Linked DNA regions of Homo sapiens. The protein of the gene in region 1 purifies or fractionates together with the protein of each later gene. This does not show direct contact. Each region holds a gene or a part of one and is shown in the gene's direction. Other genes may lie near its edges. The genes, in order: PDK4 and COA7.

Region 1 (4,125 bases):
GCTTAAGATAAGTGCTTGAGCTGTTGTGTTTTTGGTTTTTTTGTTTTTCTGTCCCACTCAAGTGCAACTGCTAGAGTCTATACTTGGATCATCCTTGAATATTCTCTAAGAACCCAGGCCCCATCCTCTTCATTGGAAGATCATAAATATTGCATGTCTTCACATAGCTGTTTCTCAAAGGTCTGAAAAAAATATTTGGTCATAACAGGAAGTCTCAAATTCTCGACCATCTATAGGTAATGTATAGACAATGGGAGAAATAGTAGGAGAGCTAATATGGTGCCTCCAAACAGGCCACATAACTGACACAGGGTTTGCCAGGACTGTTTCAGATCCCTCATAATGGTGTTGATTTTAGAGAAGCAAAATTGATACCTATTAGACATCCAAATGGAGAAACCAAATAGGCAATTGAATAGGAGAATCTGGCTCTTGGAAGAAAGTTTGTGCTAGAGATAGAATTGGAAATCTGTCCTGTGATTTAATGCAGTCTCCTAGACGAAGAGGGCAAAGGATGACAGCAGAGCCTAGGATCACTCATGACTTTCAGAGTTGCCCGTTCTGCTTATAAATGCAGGGCAGGCTGGGCGCAATGGCTCACTCCTGTAATCCCAGCACTATGGGAGACCGAGGTGGGTGGATCACTTGAGGTCAGGAGTTTGAGACCAGCCTGGCCAACATGGAGAAACCCCATCTTCACCAAAAATAGAAAAAATTAGCTGAGTGTGGTGGCGTGTGCCTGTGATCCCAGCTACTCAGAAGACTGAGGCAGCAGAATCGCTTGAACCTGGGAGGCCGAGGTTGCAGTGAGCCGAGATGGCACCACTGCACTCCAGCCTGGGAGACAGTGTGACTCTGTCTCAATAAATAAAGTAATTAATTAATTAATTAAAATAAAATAAACGCAGGGGGAGGAGGCCAAAAAGGTTTTTTATAACAAACTATCATTTTTAACACCTCATAAATTCCCATTCTATTACATTTGTAACCAACTCTCTTACTCCCAACTTTCCCAAACACGGTGGCTTCATTCCCTAGTCCTTTTAGAGTGTCGGGAGAGGAAAAGGAGGTTAGTATGACAGGGTAATGTGTCTCAACCACTGTCATTAATTTAATAAATATTGAGTAGTGAAAAAGTAGGAATCACAAAGCTGCATCAGACAGGGTCCCTACCCTGATCTCTTTCAGGAAAGGGGGGAGTCAGAGAGGGATAATATAAAAACATAAATAGCTATAGAATAGTACCATGAAAGACCAAGGCCTTATTTGGAAGAAGTGAGGAGAAGTAATCAAGGAAGACCTTTTGCAGCAGACAGCTTGTGCCAGACATTTGAGGGTAGAATGGAATGTCTTAGGTAAAGATTTGGAGTAAGGACATTTCGTACAGGGCAGAGTGAACAAATTCTCTGATCACCGCAAAAGGTAAGGCAAACTGACAAATTGATCCCTTTTTAATTTTGTTTTTAATTAACAGAACTAAACCTAACGGAAAGAATGTGTTGCCGGAGAAGAACGAATTGATGGCCTTTTATTACCACAGGAAAAAGTAAATGTATCTGGGCAGCCCCTCAAGTCTCAGCAAAAGGAACGTACAGTTCCTGCCATGTGCCGGTCTCTTCTGAAGAAAAGGGGGCGGTGGGGGTGGGGGCGCAGGTCTTTAGGTTGTTTATTCCTTTCTCTCTGTCCAGTGGCAGAGAAGCCCATACTTTTGAACGCAGCTTGTTGGCTACTGTAAAAGCCCTGCTCTGAGCAAGGACCAATGAGCACGCGGAGTCCAAACTCTTGGAAACAGTTTGTGGCCAGGAGTACTTGACATTGAGACAGCCTCCGAGTTGTAAACAAGGGCGAGCCTGGGCGGGACCCCAGCCCACGCGACTCGGAGCCCCGTCCCAAGAGGCTAATCTTAAGCCCACGTTGCCCCAGATACCTGTTTCTGCTTCCTCTTCCCTGTTCTTCCCACCCTTTTTCCGTCACAGCCGCGGGCACCGGTGCCAGGGCACTCCGTGGTCACCGTGCCAGGCCATTCTGTGATGACCGCGGCTGGAGGGGCGGAGCCCATAGTTCTTTCTCTGATCTGATTGGCGCGACCTGGAGTTCAGGACGCGTTTCCAAGTTCCAGTGACTCCTCCTGTTTGGGACTCGGGGGGAGAGTGCGGGGAGACAAATAAAACCTCGGGCGGCGGCGGCTGGTGGGAAGACTTGAACTTGAATCTCGAACCACTGCATCTCCGACTCTGCCCAGACTCTTCACTCCGCGGCACCCTCAAACCCCAGCCCAGGCCGGGGCGCACAAGCCAGCCAGCGCACCTGCAGTCCTCGCCCGGACGCGCCGCGCCCCCTCGGAACCAGGCTCTGCTCCGAGCAGCCTTCGCCCCTCAAGCCAGCCACAGTCCCCGCCAGGCCGGGTGGGCGTCAAGATGAAGGCGGCCCGCTTCGTGCTGCGCAGCGCTGGCTCGCTCAACGGCGCCGGCCTGGTGCCCCGAGAGGTGGAGCATTTCTCGCGCTACAGCCCGTCCCCGCTGTCCATGAAGCAGCTACTGGACTTTGGTGAGAGGGGACACAGGGCCCAAGCTGGGTCCTAGGGTTGGGGAACTGCCTTAACTTTCAGCCTTGGTAGAGGGAGGGCTAGGCTCAAGCTAAAACAACTGGGGTTCACTTTGCTGCTGAGCCCTGGAGCCTCGACGCCAGCACACCTTTCCTTTTCCTAGATTTGGTTACTTTCTGACAGGGGTGCCTCCAGGTCAAGGCCACCTGCAAGCCTGCCGACGCTGGATGGTTTGACTTCATCTGCACACTCTTCTTTCTGACCCGCTCTTCCAGTCAAAATACTTTTTGCTTTCGGTCACCGTTTAACAATGGACTGGAAACTTTATCCTCTCCTTCACAGCATAGTACTGCTTGGAGAAGTTTCTGAATAGTATTAAATAGCCTCAAATTAACAGATTTTATTCCTTAGCCACCTGGCATCCTTCCACAGGGTACATCTCTCTGCATTCCTGACAGATTTCTTTGTCTCTTTATCATTATAGTTTTCCATATATTTGCATTGTTGCTGAAAATATTTACACATTTGTTGCAGTAATCTTATAAGGAAGATTTCAAGGGTTTAAATGTGATATCACTACTCTGGAAATATCACAGCTCCCCCTCCAGCCTCTTATCCCCCAACTCCAATTCCATGTCCCCACTCATTAAAGGATGTTGTGTTGTTGACATTGTGGTGTGACCGAATCCTGCAGTCTTTTATAAATTCTAAGAACTGTGGGATATTCTTACTTCTTGGAAGTGAATCCTCTTCAAAAAGAGAAGACAATAATTCTCCTATATCTGTCACTTTTTAAAAGAAAGAAGGAAAGACGAAAGGACGAAGGGAATTAGTCAATTAAGGAGACAATCGCCCCTGAATTATCGATTAACAGTAACCCAACTGAGAGTGAAATATAATTTTATAATATATGTGTGTTCAATATTTGATAGTTAATGCTATTTAGATATATCATTTAGACACACTTTTTCTCAAAACTAAATTGATTTCATTTATTATAGGTTCAGAAAATGCATGTGAAAGAACTTCTTTTGCATTTTTGCGACAAGAATTGCCTGTGAGACTCGCCAACATTCTGAAGGAAATTGATATCCTCCCGACCCAATTAGTAAATACCTCTTCAGTGCAATTGGTTAAAAGCTGGTAAGTGGTGAACCATATTGAAGTCTCTAGTTTTGAAACAGTTACCCGGGTATGAATTCTTATACTATGTTAACATCATAATTGGAAAACAGGTGATCTGAATGGTAACTACTTTTGAAAGATGTAAGAATTTTAAAATTAATTTAGGGTAAGTTATCATTAGAGAAGTTATAAAACTATAAACAGACATTTTTACCCTGAAAAAGTAGATTACTTTATAATAAAATTTTGAGTTCTAGGAAAAATTTGAAAAAAATTGGCATGCAATTTTAATTTTCAATTATAGAAGAGCACTTTCAATAATAAAAGAGTTTGATATTGCAAAAGAAATCCTATGCCTAGAAACCAATTCACATGACTGCTATTTAGGGAAGGCCTAATCTTTGTAACTTACAAAGTGATTGACAGAGTGGGCTCTGGGTTCAAATCCTGCCTCT
Region 2 (3,600 bases), on another chromosome or scaffold:
ATTGCTTTAGCCGGAGGTTGAGGCTGCAGTGAGCCGTGATCATGCCAGTGCACTCCAGCCTGGTTAACAAAGCAAGACCCTTTCTCCAAAAAAAAAAAAAAAATTCACTGACTTTGGCCTGAGACATTTAGGTTGTGCCCTGGCTTGGGTTTATTTTTTCCTACTTTCCTTCCTCTCAGGTGGTCTGACCCAGGACCTGAAAGCTGCCGCCAGGTGCTTTTTGATGGCGTGTGAGAAGCCTGGAAAGAAGTCAATAGCAGCATGTCACAACGTTGGCCTCCTGGCACATGATGGACAGGTTAATGAGGATGGCCAGCCTGACTTGGGAAAGGCCAGGGACTACTACACAAGGGCCTGTGATGGTGGCTATACTTCCAGTTGCTTCAACCTCAGTGCCATGTTCCTGCAGGGTGCCCCAGGCTTTCCCAAGGACATGGACCTGGCATGTAAATACTCCATGAAAGCCTGTGACCTGGGTCATATCTGGGCCTGTGCCAATGCCAGTCGCATGTACAAGCTGGGGGATGGTGTTGATAAGGATGAGGCCAAGGCCGAGGTGCTAAAAAATCGAGCCCAGCAGCTACACAAAGAACAGCAGAAAGGTGTCCAACCCTTAACATTTGGGTAATGTGGTCCACCCTCCCTCCCAGGCAACAAACTGCTTGAGGCTGGCAGCTCCTGTTTCTGAAGACTGATGCAGCCCTTGAAGGTCAACCTGCTGGAGCAAAAAAACTTGGGACTTGAATTTGTAGCTCCATTTACATGGATCCATTGCCCCAGCTACTGGAGTATAGCCTACAATGTTTATTTCAGTCAATATTCCTTTATCTGGGTGTTCTGTACAATGTTTATTACAGTCAATATTCCTTCATCTGGATGTTCTGTGAAGATAGCCATGTTTATGGGGGTCTTAGTTTTCAAACTCTGGCAACTCTGTGAAAAATAGGAGCAAACTAGAGAGCCCTGGAGATTGGTAGTAGGGAAGGGAGGATAGCAGGAAGTTTGAAAAATTAGCAGCCCCGGGGCCTAAAGGAATCAGCTGTCATCATTTTCATCATTATTATTTTGGTTAGGATGGCTTGAAAATCAGAACGTATCTTGGTTTACGTAATTGAGGTCTTAAAGAACTAAGAACAGTTAAATAGTCACAACTACCACCCTCTGACTTACATAATCATTGGTGTGGGCTTCGTTTTGCCTTTAGAGTCACATCTTTCAGTAAATTCACAGAGATCAAGAGGGACGTGCAACATACAGCTTAAAGGCTGTTATGCTTCAGGGTTGCTGAAGAAGATGAAACATCAGCCTGCCATCGTCTAGAAGAGACATTGGCAGTTAAAAATTAGCACCTCCAGTGTAGTCGCCTGGCACTGCCCATCATGCTGAGGGAGCAGATTCTTCCCAAGGCAGCTTCAGCTAGGAGTTTGTAAGCAAGGACTTTGTGACACATTTGTCCCCTGGAACTGAGCCTTTTTAACTGTCCCTGTGAATGAACAATTTTGAGTGACCTACGGTTTGTGTTAATTAGTGTTCTTTCCAGATTCCAGGTACCGTAGAGAGTATGTTCTTTGTGGTGGTTGTGCCTTTTAAGAACATTTGTGGCCGGGCACGGTGGCTCACGCCTGTAACCCCAGCACTTTGGGTGGCCAAGGCGGGTGGATCACGAGATCAGGAGATCATGACCATCCTGGCTAACACGGGGAAACCCCATCTCTACTAAAAAATACAAAAAATTAGCCGGGCGTGGTGGCAGGCGCCTGTAGTCCCAGCTACTGGGGAGGCTGAGGCAGGAGAATTGCTTGAACCCGGGAGGCGGAGCTTGCAGTGAGCTGAGATTGCGCCACTGCCCTCCAGCCTGGGCGATAGAGTGAGACTCCGTCTCAAAAAAAAAAAAAAATTTGCTTTTTCTGTTGTCTCCCCAGCTTGTCACCAGGGGGCGAGCTTGCCATTTCCCTGCTGGTAACAATACCATTCTGTCACCATCTACTGTTTTAGGCTTCCGTTTTGCAGCCGTCCTGAAAGGAAGGCTTGCTGTGTAAATGAAGGCTTGTGAGCACAGCAGCCAGCCTCTCAAGTTGATAGAGGACAGGGACTTCCCCAAGTGCACAGAGGAGATTTCAAAAGACATCAAATTCACTTTTTAAAAATGTAAAGTAGCTTTTGGTGTGCTTAAACTAGGTCAGGCCAGGCGTGGTGGCTCATGCCTGTAATCCTAGCATTTTGGGAGGCCAAGGCAGGTGGATCACTTGAGGTCAGGAGTTCGAGATCAGCCTGGCCAACATGACGAAACCCCTTTCTCTACTAAAAATATAAAAATTAGCTGGGCGTGGTGATGCATACCTGTAATCCCAGCTACTTCGGAGGCTGAGGCAGGAGAATCACTTGAACCTGGGAGGCAGAGGTTGCAGTAAACTGAGACTGTGCCACTGCACTCCAGCCTGGGCAACACAGCAAGACTCTGTCTCAAAAACAAAAACAAAACTAGGCCAGGTGCAGTGGCTCACGCTTGCAATCCCAGCACTTTGGGAGGCCGAGGCAGGCGGATCACGAGGTCAGGATTTCGAGAACAGCCTGGCCAACATAGTGAAACCTCGTATCTACTAAAAATACAAAAATTATCTGGGTGTGGTGGTGGGCACCTGTTGTCCCAGCTATTCAGGAGGCTGAGGCAGGAGAATCGCTTGAACCCAGGAGGTGGAGGTTGCAGTGAGCCAAGACCATGCCATTGCACTCCAGCCAGGTAACAGAGTGAGACTCTGTCTCAAAAAAACACACACACACACACACACAAAACTGTAGGTCAAAAAACATGAAAATATGTTCAACATCACTAATTAGGGAAATGTAAATCAAAAACCACAATGAACTCTTAAAATTCAACAGTAAGAAAACAACCTGATTAAAAACAGGCCAAAACCCTTAACATATCTCAGCAAAGAAGATAGACAGGTGGCAAATAAGCATATGAAAAGATGTTCCATATAACATGTCATCAGGAAAATGCAAGTTAGAACAACAGACCACTATACAACTATTAGAATGGCCAAAATCCAAAGCACCGACAGCATGAAATGCTGGGAAAGTTGGAGCAACCAGAACTCTTATTCCTTGCTGGTGGGAACGCAAGATGGCACAGCCACTTTGGAAGACAGTTAAGCAGTTTCTTACAAAAACTAGGTAAGCTCTTACCATGTGATCCAGCAATCTTGCTCTTTAGTATTTACCTGAAGGAACTGAAAACATGTCCACACAAAAACCAGCACATGGATGTTTATAGCAGCTTTATCTATAATTGCCAAAACTCAACCCAAAATGTCTTTCAGTAGGTAAATGGGTAAATAAATTGTGGTGCATGTAGTCATTATTCAGTGCTTAAATCAAGCTATGACAAATTATGAGTTATCAAGCTATAAGAAGTCACAGAGGAACTTAAATGAATGCTACTAAATGAAGCCAGTCTGAAAAGGCTTCATATTAAATGATGCCAACTATATGACACTGGGATGTATTCTGGAAAAGGCAAAACTATGGAGACAGTAAAAAGCAGTGGGTGGGGGAGGGGAGGGAGGAATAATTGGAGCACAGAAGATTTTTAGGGCA

Evidence for each region.
Region 2: the proteins of PDK4 (region 1) and COA7 purify together in Homo sapiens (affinity purification with mass spectrometry; 2 studies listed by BioGRID and IntAct, with this or other methods). This does not show direct contact.

What each region holds. Positions count from the first base shown.
Region 1 is NC_000007.14:95,594,586-95,598,710, reverse strand, and holds the start of PDK4 (pyruvate dehydrogenase kinase, isozyme 4), read left to right. Parts: upstream 1-2,194; 5' UTR 2,195-2,417; coding exon 2,418-2,547; intron 2,548-3,546; coding exon 3,547-3,688; intron 3,689-4,125. UniProt on the Homo sapiens protein: Kinase that plays a key role in regulation of glucose and fatty acid metabolism and homeostasis via phosphorylation of the pyruvate dehydrogenase subunits PDHA1 and PDHA2.
Region 2 is NC_000001.11:52,684,748-52,688,347, reverse strand, and holds part of COA7 (cytochrome c oxidase assembly factor 7), read left to right. Parts: intron 1-179; coding exon 180-628; 3' UTR 629-3,600. UniProt on the Homo sapiens protein: Required for assembly of mitochondrial respiratory chain complex I and complex IV.